Linked DNA regions of Homo sapiens: all the other regions are reported to be linked to region 2. The links are microRNA targets in miRTarBase. Many come from high-throughput screens and were not tested one by one. Region 2 holds a microRNA gene; each other region holds the end of a gene's coding sequence.

The links. The annotated mature microRNA hsa-miR-6765-3p reads UCACCUGGCUGGCCCGCCCAG and lies in region 2 at 2,846-2,866, opposite strand. An mRNA with a match to its seed (bases 2 to 7 or 8) in the 3' UTR can be bound and repressed. Matches are read on the target gene's strand: a 7mer-m8 pairs with bases 2 to 8, a 7mer-A1 pairs with bases 2 to 7 and ends in A, and an 8mer does both.
Region 1: the mRNA of VMA22 is a reported target of hsa-miR-6765-3p. The part of its 3' UTR that is shown has no 7-base or 8-base seed match.
Region 3: miRTarBase lists LDLR as a target of hsa-miR-6765-3p. Seed matches in the 3' UTR shown: 7mer-m8 at 2,486-2,492.

The regions. Positions count from the first base shown.
Region 1 is chr2:130,335,326-130,339,325 of GRCh38, forward strand. It overlaps VMA22 (vacuolar ATPase assembly factor VMA22), which reads right to left. Exons shown (of 5, transcript NM_032357.4): 5 at 2,608-3,907. The coding sequence ends at 3,795. TRE-TTC1-1 (tRNA-Glu (anticodon TTC) 1-1) reads right to left here and starts at 1,874; the gene lies at 1,803-1,874. RefSeq lists an enhancer at 1,602-1,661.
Region 2 is chr14:105,147,933-105,152,081 of GRCh38, forward strand. MIR6765 (microRNA 6765) reads right to left here and starts at 2,932; the gene lies at 2,846-2,932. It overlaps JAG2 (jagged canonical Notch ligand 2), which reads right to left. Exons shown (of 26, transcript NM_002226.5): 7 at 4,006-4,125; 8 at 3,694-3,807; 9 at 3,351-3,464; 10 at 3,059-3,172; 11 at 2,933-2,979; 12 at 2,672-2,845; 13 at 1,238-1,388; 14 at 1,005-1,157; 15 at 813-926; 16 at 394-507; 17 at 184-297.
Region 3 is chr19:11,130,546-11,134,545 of GRCh38, reverse strand. It overlaps LDLR (low density lipoprotein receptor), which reads right to left. Exons shown (of 18, transcript NM_000527.5): 18 at 726-3,265. The coding sequence ends at 3,230. Among named protein-coding and RNA genes, the nearest start is that of MIR6886, 19 kb to the right of the region's middle.

The DNA.
Region 1 (4,000 bases), not on the chromosome of region 2:
AGGCTGTGTTTCTTGTTTGCTGTAGCTGTAAATGTCAGAGGCTAAAATTTCCTCTAGTGTCCTTGTTTTTGCATCCCCTGTTGCCTTTGGGTTTCCCTAGAGACTGCTTCTTACATAAATTCTGGGCCTTGCAGTTCTTTCAGCTGCAATCCCTTGTTAATATATAGGAGCCCTAAGTGATGTGGCAGTAAGATGTGGGGACAGCAGGGAGTGGTCTATAAACCCATGATCAGGGCCCAGTCTTGTTGTGAACCAGTGGTCCCTAGGCTGTGCCACTCACAAGTGCTTCTCAGCTTTTTTTTAATGTGAGTTGGAAGACTAAAGCAGACTGGAGGTGGATATTTTCCTTCCCTTGGGTTGGGTAGGCTCTGGTAGTTGCTCTGACTTTAAGCCTTTGTTAAAGAGGACAGGACGTTATGTGTGCATTTCAAAGTGGTTACACTTTCCTCCCCTTGCCAGAAGCTCCAGCAGATTTTTCTCTGATTTTCACCCAAGAACAAGATAGAATTCCTGGAGCTAAAACCCATGAGACTGTGGGGGCCCCTTAAGGCTATGTCCCCAGCATCTTTTCTCTCTTATGCTTACATGCCCAGGCTCTAGCAGTTAGTCAGTTACCCTTTAAGTTTTCCTACAGGTTGCTGGCTGCAGCAGCAGCTTCTGTGCCTGGCAAGCTGTAGCTCTGTATTTGCCTTTCCTTCTCATTTTCAGGGGAGTGGTTTGCCACGTGACCTCAATTTTCTGAGGAATCGAAGAGTTGTTGATTTTCCAGTTCGTTCAGCTTTTTTCTTGTTGTAAGGATGGAAGTGATGATTTTGAAGCTCTTTATGTGCCAGAACAAAAATTTTCATTGGTATGCTTACTAGTGATAATTATAAAAAACAAAGGTATGAATGAATGAATGAATGAGTGTGGCAGTAATTGCTGAAGACATGACCTCAGCCTTACATACAATCTCCCTGGATTAATTGAGCAAGCCAAAAAACAATGTCTTTTTTAGTTAAGAGGTCTGACTCTGTAGCCCAGGTTGGAGGGTACTGGCATGACCTCGGCTCACTGCAGCCTCAACCTCCTGGGCTCAGGCGATCCTCCAGCCTCAGCCTCCTTAGTAGCTGGGACTGAAGCTGCCGCCTCACCCAGCTGGGTTCTCCTTTCCACCGGACATGTGTTTGTGTGCTGGCACGAAGGCATCATTGAAGTTTGAAGTTGGTTTTCTGCTGGGGGAGTGGAGTCAAGCCCGGACTGTCCCAGTGAGAAAACGGGAACCCTGACTACTGGACAAAACAAAGCAGCAGCAAGAGAGAAAGGTAAATTTTTCCAGAGTGCTATGCTCCCAGTAGACTTCCTAGGACTTCCTATCCCTGCCTTGCAGAGGCAGCTCACGGACCCGAGGTGGCTCCTGCCAACCTGAGCAAGTGCGCTGGAGCGTGATGGAGGCCAGTGGGGATCTGCCTTCTGCTGGGGGTTCCACAGCAACACATTTTGAATATTTTCAATGTTATCGGGCATTTCACTACTTCTAATATTCACATCTGCGATGTATATAGCATCTAATATACTCAGTAAGCTATTGATGGTCAAAACAACTAGCTAATGTCATGATGAAAATGGTCACTGCCATCAAAACACACAGCGATGGGGCCCGGATCTCCCTGGGCCTGTTTCTCCAAGTTCAAGTGAAGAGGAAATACCCAATCTGGCCTGGAGCGTTCTAGTGGCGAAAAGTCAAAGTTCTTCTGGCGAACATTTTCAAGTTGAAAGAAAAAAATATACACCCGCAAAAAAAAAAAAAAAAGCCACTTTTGTTCCCATACCGGGAGTCGAACCCGGGCCACCTGGGTGAAAACCAGGAATCCTAACCGCTAGACCATATGGGAACTGCTGAAAGGTGACGCCACCGTGTCTGTATACGTGACATGCGTCAGCTTCACCGCCAGCGCCTCCCAACTACCACTGCGCAGCACTGAGCTCCTGCTGTCCCTGTAGAAACTCGTATGACTGCAGCCGTGCCAGACTCGCTGCATGAACCCAGTCTCTCGACTTAGCCCTGGTGGGACAAGCCACTTCCCCACAGAAGCCAGAATCCCCTTTCCTGGCGGTCTCCCCAAGAGCTGGAGTTAGGGCAGAAGGTCAGGGCAGCAAGTTAAGGATGCTTTGCTAAAGATTTGCTGTCTTCATCCAACCCTATTTGCAGAGCCCATGGCCTCGCCCTGATAGGAGGATGGCCACCTGTGAGTCCAGCCCCAAGCCAGCAGTGGGAGGCACGTGCCCACCCCAGTGTCCGCCCACAATCAGCAGCGAAGGGCGTGCTCCACGGGGTCGCACCTCCTCCTGGAAGAATTTGTGGCCCCAGCAAAATTGACTTATTTTTTTCCTTACTTTGGCTTCAGAATCTCACTAACTGGAACCTTGTGGATAGGATCTTTGTTACAAAAGGCAACCTTTGGTGAGGTTTGGGGGCAGATACCCGTTTTTCCTGCAGTCACAGGGGTTCCATTTGAGTTCCCCCATTAGTCTTTTCCCTGGCAACTCAAGGTCAACAGGGCCAATAAACGACCCCTCAACCCAACGCGAATCTGCCATACAGGGATTATGTTAAAGTTCAAGAAGTAAAACAATGTGGTACTGGTGTATTGACAGTAATGTCCACGAAACAGAATGAAAACCCCCAAATTACATTAGGTTTACACTGGGAGTTAGCAAAACAAAAGGGCAGCATTAACCGACATACAGCACGTGGGAGGATGGTGGAAAAGCTGGACATGACTCACTGGACATTTCAACTGAAACCACAGAGGTTCTTGAAAATGCTGGAGAATTCCCTGATTGCCTTATCAGTTACAAACCCAAATTCAGAATCATGTGACAGCTGGATACATTCAACTGTACGTACAAATAATGATCAAAAAACACAAAAGTTGGGTAGTGGTTACCATAGCTTTTACTGTAGTTATTCATTAAGCTATTCAACTGTTCTGTGCAGTTTGATGTTTTATTTTACAATAAAAAGTCAAAAAAAATAAGCAAAAAGATAAACTGGAAAATAAGACTTACATCTCATATATATGGACAAAGGACCAATTACCTCCAAACATAAACAGCTCCTAGAAATTACTGCAAAGATCAACAACCCAGTAGAAAAATGAATGAAGTTCCCAGAACAGAAAACACAAGTGGCCCTTCAAAAAAATGAAGAGAGGCTCAGCCTCTTATGGTAAGACAAAGAGACAGGATTTTAAAAACCTAGGCCTCTTCCTAGAGTTCCCTTAAATATCTAGGCCAGATCATTTTTACTTCCTGGCTTAGACCCTGCCAAGGGCTGCCCAGCTACTCAGGTGTTTGTGTCCTTGTGGACTCAAGTCATATTGTCCTGATCTTTTGGCTGAGTACGGTTTTCTCCTCCAGCAAAGACAATTTGGAGGATGTACTAAGCATGAAGCGCTACTTCCTGGCCCCCATCTCTCTTCGCACAGTGTTCCATCATCCAGCCATGAAAGCACAGCTGAGTGATCCAAGAGGCAGTTCCAATTGTTGACTAACGTGTACCTGCCTATGTGAGTGTGTCCTATGGGAACTCAGGCCTTAGAATGGTTTCAAAGTAGTGGCTTTCAAAATTACTGTTTGCCTCTTCAAACTTCACACCTAAGGAAAATGGAAACATGCAGAGCAGGGACACAGAAGGGGCATTAGCTGGCGTGGGGTAGGGGCAAGAGCTAATTGTGAAGGAAGAAGGCCTGAGATCACGTAGCCATGTCGGAGAACAGCTGTGCTCGCTGCCCTGCCTCTTTGCGCGCATGTCAGGCAGCCCCAGGCTCCAGCTGCTTGAGTTTCTCTTGGAGTCCCCGGAGCTGGCTTCGACCCCAGTCAATGCGGTTCTGGAGGCTGGCTATGTCTGCGGCCAGCTGCAGGCCTGGAGGAAAGGAGAGAAGGTCACCATGGTATCTGTAGTGTAACACACGACCCAGGAGGATCTGGATATCCCCAGAAATTGGAAAGGCTTCAG
Region 2 (4,149 bases):
CTGGCCCTGGGTCTCCATACCGCGCCCCCAACCCAGACAGGGCAGACAGACCCGGGGGCAGGGGGCAGGGGGCAGGTGGCAGGTGTGGCCCTCAAAAAAGACCCCTCGGCCCATCGCGCCCGAGGGAGCGGTGCCTGGGAGGGCATATGCCCGGCGGTCGCAGAGGCAGCGGGGGCTCCTCACCGACGGCGCAGGTGCTGCCCTTCCAGCCGGGGGGGCAGGCGCAGCGGAAGGTGTCGCCGCTGTCGTAGCAGGTGCCACCGTTGCTGCAGGTGTAGGCATCGCACTGGAACTCGCCTGTTGGCACATGGGCCGCTCAGCAGGCAGGCCCCAGACCGCCAGGGCCAGGGTCCTGGGGGCAGCCCCAGGCGGCCAGGGCCTGCGGACACTCACGTGAGTGGCAGGTCTTGCCCTTCCAGCCGTCGTCGCACGCACAGTAGAAGTCATTGACCAGGTCGTAGCAGCGGCCGCGGCTGTGGCAGGGATCGGGAAGGCAGTCGTTGGGATCTGGGGGCGAGGACGCCGGTCAGCGGGCGGGGGGTCACCGGCGCTCAGGGAGGGCTTCCCGGGGGAGGAAGCACTGGAGCTGGGCCAGGTGAGGACAGAGAGGGGCGGGGGAGGAGCGTCGGGCCGGGGGAGCTGGCCTCGGGCATGGGGGCAGCCTGGGACTCCACCCCATGGTGGCAGCACCCCCTGGCCAGGCCTTTCTGGGTACGGGGCCTGCCGCACCCAGACAGCGGTCCATCTCAGGGTGATAAGGGGCCCACAGGGGTGGAGGCACAGGCCGTGTGGGCGGGTGCTGGAACACTCACTGGTGTCGCAGAGCTCGCCCTCCCAGCCGCTGGGGCAGAAGCAGCGGAAGGCGTCCACCTCATCGATGCATGTGCCCCCATTGCGGCAGGGCTGGCCCAGGCAGTCGTCAATGTCTGCAGAGGCGAGCGGGGTGAGCCAGGGCCTCAGGCCAGCCCAGCCCCACCACCAGCCCGCCGTTCGTGGCCACTCACTCTCATGGCAGTAGGTGCCAGTAAAGCCACTGTCACAGATGCAGGAAAAGTTGCCCCCTGGCTGGCTGACGCAGCGTCCATGGGGGCCACACACGCCGGAGGCTGCTGTGCCAGGCATCCCAGGCCCCGCGTCTGACCCGCAGCCATCGATCACTATGGCAGGCAGTACAGTCAGGAGTCAGGCCCGCCCCTGCCCCACCACCTCCCCCACCACCCCATGCCGCACCCAGCACCTCTGCAGGCCCCGCCAGGGCACGGCTCGCGGGGCACGGAGCAGTTCTTGCCACCAAAGTCATCAGGGCAGGCGCAGTAATAGTCACCCTCCAGGTTATAGCAGCGAGCGCCGTTCCGGCAGGGGCTTGGCTCACAAAGGTCGACATCCACCTGCAGGGTGGGGGGTGCCTGTGAGAGCCTAGGCCCAGGCCCAGGCCGGGAACACAGGCCAGGCCTCTGTCCATACGAAGGTAGATCCCTGGGGACCCCCAGGCCCCTCCGCCCTGGGCCTAACAGTGCCAGCCAGAGCCCAAGACCCCTGCCCACCTGAGACTGCCCAGGCCTTAGCTGAACGCAGATACCTGTGGGCCCCCACCCCCACCTCCACTGCAGCCCAGCTTCCTCACTGTCCCTCGGGAGGAGTGTGGCCTTGGCCCCTGCTGCTGGCAGGAAGGACAGCTCCTGAGCCCCTCACACACTGCCTGGCCACCCTCAGAGCCAAGACTGTGGGTCTTTTCCAGGGCCAGCCACTGCCATGCTTGCAGGTCCTGAGGTCAGACCCCTGCCCTGGGCCCCAAGAAGCCCTCTGGACAGGAGGCCCATCCTCTGCACCAAGGCCAGGGCAGGATCGTGGGCGGCCGAGGGTGGTAGGGAGGTGGGTGGGGGGAGGCAGGGAAAAAGGGGAAGTAAGGGGAGGGGGTGGTAGGGAGGCAGGTAATGGGGAGGCAGGGTTGGGGGAGGTGGGGAAGGGGGTGGTAGGGAGGTGGGTGGGGGGAGGCAGGGTTGGGGGAGGTGGGGAAGGGGGTGGTAGGGAGGTGGGTGGGGGGAGGCAGGGTTGGGGGAGGTAGGGGAGGGGTGATAGTGAGGTGGGTGGGGGGAGGCAGGGTTGGGGGAGGTGGGGAAGGGGGAGGTGGGGAAGGGGGTGGTAGGGGTGGTGGGGAAGGGGGAAGGCAGGTTACTTTGGAGGCAGGGGGGAAGGGGAGGTTGGGGGAGGGGGTCCAGTACCAACAGATGGTCAGAGGGAGGCGAGAGCATCAGCCCTGAGAGAGATGCCCACTCCGACCCAGGACTCACCTATGACAGGTGTATACCTCTCCACCATCAGGCACCCACCCTACCCCATGTGCTCTGCCCACCAGAGCCCCCTGCCCTCCAGTCCCGAGGGAGTGCACAGATGGACAGATAGGCCTGGGCAGCCAGCAGCCCGGGGGCTCCTAGCCCAGGCCACCAGGAAACCCATCACAACAAGCAATGGCCACAGGGGGCCAAGCCTGGTGACCTGTGACAGCCCCGCCTGCCCACCTGGCACCCAGTGGAGAGCTGAGCCTGGGACGCCTTGGGGACAACTTCCCCTGCAGCACCCCTGGGTCACTCAGGCCCCATGGTCAGGGGACGAGGCCTGCCCTACAGCTCCCAGAGCAGCAGGTGGGGCAGGGTGACCAGGCAGACCTCACCTCACAGAGAGGCCCGGAGAAGCCCTGGGGGCAGTGGCAGTGGAAGCCGTCGGCCAGGTCCTCGCAGAGGCCGCCGCTGTGGCAGGGGCTGCTGGCACACTCGTCTCGTTCCAGCTCGCAATGCCGGCCTCCGAAGCCCCGTGGGCACACACACTGGTACCCGTTCACCAGGTCCTGGGCGGGCCAGCCAGGTGAGCGTCCCGCAGGCACCCTGACGGCCCCGCAGCACCCACGCCACACACCCTCCTGGCCCCGCCTCACCTTGCAGGTGCCCCCATGCTGACACTGCCCGCGACAGTCGTTGACGTCTGGGGGCAGAGGAGCAGGGTCAGAGGCGGGGTCCCATGTGCCTCGGCCCACCCGCCGGCGCCCACCCCCCATACTGACTGATATGGCAGTTGATGCCCTTCCAGCCCGGGATGCAATCACAGTAATAGCCGCCAATCAGGTTTTTGCAAGAAAAAGCGTTAAGGCATGGCTTCCCTTCACACTCATTGGCGTCTGTGAAAGAGACAAGGTGGGAGCCGTGGGGCTCGGGCCCTGCCTGCCCCCTGCAGCACGGGCACCTGGCACCCGCAGCCCAGCAGCCCCAGCAGCCCCAGCAGCCCCCGCAGCCCCAGCAGCCCCCGCAGCCCGCATGCGCGGCCCACGTTCCCATGCACTCGCTCGGAGCCCTTACCCAGCTGGCAGGTGGCCCCCACCCACTGCTCGGGGCAGATGCACTCAAAGCCGTCCACCTGGTCCACACAGGTGCCACCGGCCGCACACGGGTTCGAAGCACACTCATCGATGTCTGCAGAGGGTGGAGAAAGGTGGGGCCCTGGCAGTGTGAGCCGTGGGAATAAGGTCCCCATGGGCAGGTGGCGCTGCAAGCCTGGGTCTTCCTGCCATTTGTCCTCGCCAAGCCAGCCGCAGCCACACGTGTGGACTTGACCACTGCACCCCATCCCCAGCGAGTTGCCCCACTCCCAGACCCCCACTGATACTAGGCAGGAGTCCCCTACTCACGTGCAGACACTCACCAAGGGCACAGGTGGGCCCGCTCCAGCCCGATGGGCAGTGGCATTCGAAGCCGGACGGCACCTCATGGCAAGAGCCCCCGTTGGCACACGGGTTGGAGGTGCAGGCGTGCTCAGCTGTAGAACCGCGGGGAGGGGGCAGAGCTGGCAGCCAGGCCCCCAGCTTTCCACAAGCACTCCTCCCCAAGCCCACAGGTTCCCAAGCTGGGGGTCAGGGGCCCACCACACAGGACGCCAGAGGGATGGGGCCTGACCGGCTCCCCAGGGAACCAGTCCCTGCCTGGCCAGAATTTGGGTGGCCAGCCCCCCACGTACCCTTCTCACAGTTCCTGCCCGAGTAGCCGTCAGGGCAGGTGCAGCGGTACTGGTCAGGCTCGGCGTTGATGCACGTGCCTCCGTTGGTGCAGGGGTGGTGGCTGCCACAGTAGTTCAGGTCTGGGGGCAGGGGTGGGATGCTCA
Region 3 (4,000 bases), not on the chromosome of region 2:
TGAAACCCTGTCTCTACTAAAAATACAAAAAATTAGCCGGGCGTGGTGGCGGGTGCCTGTAGTCCCAGTTACTCAGGAGGCTGAGGCAGGAGAATGGCATGAACCCGGGAGGCGGAGCTTGCAGTAGGCAGAGATCACGCCACTGCACTCCAGCCTGGGCGACAGAGCAAGACTCCATCTAAAAAAACAAAAAAATTAGCGTTGGCCACCCGCGGTGGCTCACGCCTGTAATCTCAGCACTTTGGGAGGCCGAAGCAGGTGGATCACAAGGTCAGGAGATCGAGACCATCCTGGCTAACATGGTGAAACCCCGTCTGTACTAAAAGAAGTACAAAAAAAAATTAGCCGGGCGTGGTGGCAGGCGCCTGTGGCCCCAGCTACTCAGGAGGCTGAGACAGGAGAATGGCATTAACCTGGGAGGCAGAGCTTGCAGTGAGCCGAGATCACACCACTGCACTCCAGCCTGGGTGACAGAGCGAGACTCTGTCTCAAAAAAAAAAAAAAAAAAAAAATTGGCCAGGCGTGGTGGCACTCACCTGTAATCCTAGCTACTAGGGAGGCTGAGGCAGGAGAATTGCTTGAACCTGGGAGGCGGAGCTTGCAGTAAGCCGAGATCATGCCACTGCACTCCAGCCAGGGGTGACAGAGCCAGGCTCCATCTCAGGAAAAAAAAAAAAACAAAAAGAAGCGCGCGAACAGAAGAACGTGCATCGAGTTTAGACAAATTGGTTCATTTAAGAAATTTAATTGATCACAGTAAGACATTCAGGCTACAAAAACCTTCTATACAGTGGTTTAAAAAGTGACACCCATCTCCCAGAAGCCACTCATACATACAACGGGGACATCATTCTCCCAAAAAGCGTTGCACACAGTCCAGTTCGTGCAAATAATCTTTGTACATAAAGAAGAGGCATTTCAGAGGCAATAACCCCCTACACAGGGCCCCGAGAATAGTCACTGAACAAATACAGCAACCAGGGTTTGCAAAAATAAATAGATTTTATATATATGTGTGTATATATATATATATAAGTGATAACAGTTTCAACCAATATACAAAGTGCAAACATAACAAAAAATCCCCACTATCTGTACAGGGACGCATTTACGTGCTCCGAAACCAGAAAGGCTTATCACGGTTCCCTGCACTGGGGGGGACACAGTGTTTTGTCCCTGGGGACAATTGCCAATCCCTTGTGACATCTTCACGCGGGAGTCTGACGGAGGCTGTCACTGTCTCTCCGGACATCAGTGCAACAGTAACACGGCGATTTCAGAAAGAACCTGAAGTCCCGTCAAACGATCCAGACTGGAGGATTTATTTATTTTTTTATAGTTGTATTTCTGAAATAGGGTCTTCATCTGTTGCCCAGGCTGGAGTGCAGTGGCTCGATCATGGCTCACTGCAACCTCCACCTCCTGGGCTCAGGCGATCCTCCTGCCTCAGCCTCCCAAGTAGCTGGGATCACAGGCACGTGCCACCGTACCCAGCTGATTTTTAACTTTTTGGTTTTTGTAGAGATGGGATCTCGCTTTGTTGCTCAGGCCTGGTCTCCAACTCCTGAACTCAAGTGATCCAGCTCAGCCTCCCAAAGTGCTGGGATTACAGGCGTGAGGCACCTGTGTCTGGCCAAATTCATTTTTTAAGAGATGGGGTCTTACTATGTTGCCCAGGCTGGAAAGCAGTGGCATAATCATAGCTCACGACAGCCTCAAATGCCTGAGCTCAAACCATCCTCCCACCTCAGCCTCGCCATGCCTGGCCAGAGGCCATGGGCTGCTGATGCACCATGCATGGTTTTTTTTTGTTTTTTTTTTTTGAGACGGAGTCTCGCTCTGTCGCCCAGGCCAGACTGCGGACTGCAGTGGCGCAATCTCGGCTCACTGCAAGCTCCGCTTCCCGGGTTCACACCATTCTCCTGCCTCAGCCTCCCGAGTAGCTGGGACTACAGGTGCCCGCCACCACGCCCGGCTAATTTTTTGTATTTTTAGTAGAGACGGGGTTTCACGTGTTAGCCAGGATGGTCTCGATCTCCTGACCTCATGATCCACCCGCCTCGGCCTCCCAAAGTGCTGGGATTACAGGCGTGAGCCACTGCGCCCGGCCTCACCGTGCATGTTTTAAACACATACCCATCAACGACAAGATTGGGGAAGTGAATGGCTTGGAGGCATTTGCATAGAAGTGGAAGCACTAGGTGGGCGGACATAAAGACGACAATGGCAGTTCTCGATATTCACGATCACGGCTTTGAAGTCCCGGTCAACCTGCCCCTCTCTGTCCCCGGCATTCATTGACACGGGCTTTCCCTGGCCTGGGATCCCATCCCAACACACACGACAGAAAACAGTGCAAAATAATAACACAAATGCCAAATGTACACAGTGTACAACTCTGAACTGAGAAAGTGCAAGGAGACCACGGGAATGGAAGTGGGTAGGGGTCGGGAGGATGGGCACCAGGCTGGTGTCCTGACAGCCACACCTGGGTGCAGGCCACGTGTCCTCACGGCCAAGGTAACCGGGTGTCTCAGGCACTTAATAAATATTAAGGGTGACCAGTGACTCAGGCTCTGCCTCTGGGAAGTGGCATCATTTGGTGAATGAGTTTGGTCTCGGTGCCACCACGGATTCAGCCAGATCATTTCCGACGCCATGAATCCCTTTCCTGGCTTAAGGAAGGTACAAACCCACCTCGAAAGACACTGGGTGGGTCATGATTCGGGGGTGACAGGGCAAAGGCTAACCTGGCTGTCTAGCAAGGCTTGCATAGAAGAGGTAAACACGTTGACTCCTGAGTTTAGGGGTTTGGCTTAGAGATTGGTGGATGAGGCAGGGCCAGGGGGTCCCGTTGGTGCCATCTGCTGTTGTGTGTTGAAAGCCACTTGCTTCTCTGGGCCTGACATCCCCTCCCCTTTCATCTTCCATGTTTGAGGATTGTGTCACGGTGGAGAGAAACTCAAAACTTCCTGGAGAGAAATGGAGGTGTCATCCTGGTCCCCCCGGGCCTGTTTCTCTTATCCTTCACGAGGAAAGGAAGAAACCAAAATCCCAACCCAAGCCATTGCATGGGCACTGTCCGAAGCCTGTTCTGCCTCCCAGATGAATAAATATATAAAACAAAGCTCTGGCAGGCAATGCTTTGGTCTTCTCTGTCTTTGAATAAAACAAGGCCGGCGAGGTCTCAGGAAGGGTTCTGGGCAGGGACGGGACTCCAGGCAGATGTTCACGCCACGTCATCCTCCAGACTGACCATCTGTCTCTGCCAACAAATGGTAAACAGCGGAAACTATCAGTCCAGCATTCAGGAAACACGGCTGGAGGCCACCTACTTCTCACCTCCTGGGCCTGGCAGCCTCCCCCAGCCTGATCCCCAAGCATGTTCCCCCAGGAGCCGCCAGAGGGAGACGGTGAGTACCGGATTCAGTCACTTCCCACCGCTCTCAGGGCAAAAGCCAAAGTCCTCCCCAGTGGCCCACAAGGCTCTGCACAACCTGCCTGGTAGCCTCCTGCCTTTTTACCCCTCTCTCTGTTTGCTCCAGCTACAACGGCCTCAAACCCAACAGGCACGGTCCAGCCTCAGGGCCTTCGCACAGGCTGTTCTCCTGGTTCAGAGAAGGCTACCTACCCTAAACCCCTTGTGTAAAGATCAAGGCGGGCGCAGTGGCTCACGCCTGCAATCCCAGCACGTGGGGAGGCCAAGGCGGGTGGATCACTTGAGGTCAGGAGTTCGAGACCAGTCTGGGCAACATGGCGAAACCTCGTCTCTACTAAAAATACAAAAATTACCCGGGCATAGTGTTGTAATCCCAGCTACTCAGGAGGCTGAGGCTGAGGCATAAGAATTGCTTGAACCCAGGAGGCAGAAGTTGCAGTGAGCCAAGATCACAGCACTGCACTCCAACCTGGGTGACAGAGAGAGACTCTGTCTCAAAATAAAAAATAAAAGCAAAAAAATAAAACACCTCCTCTCCCTTCCTCCCTCCTGGCCCTCTGG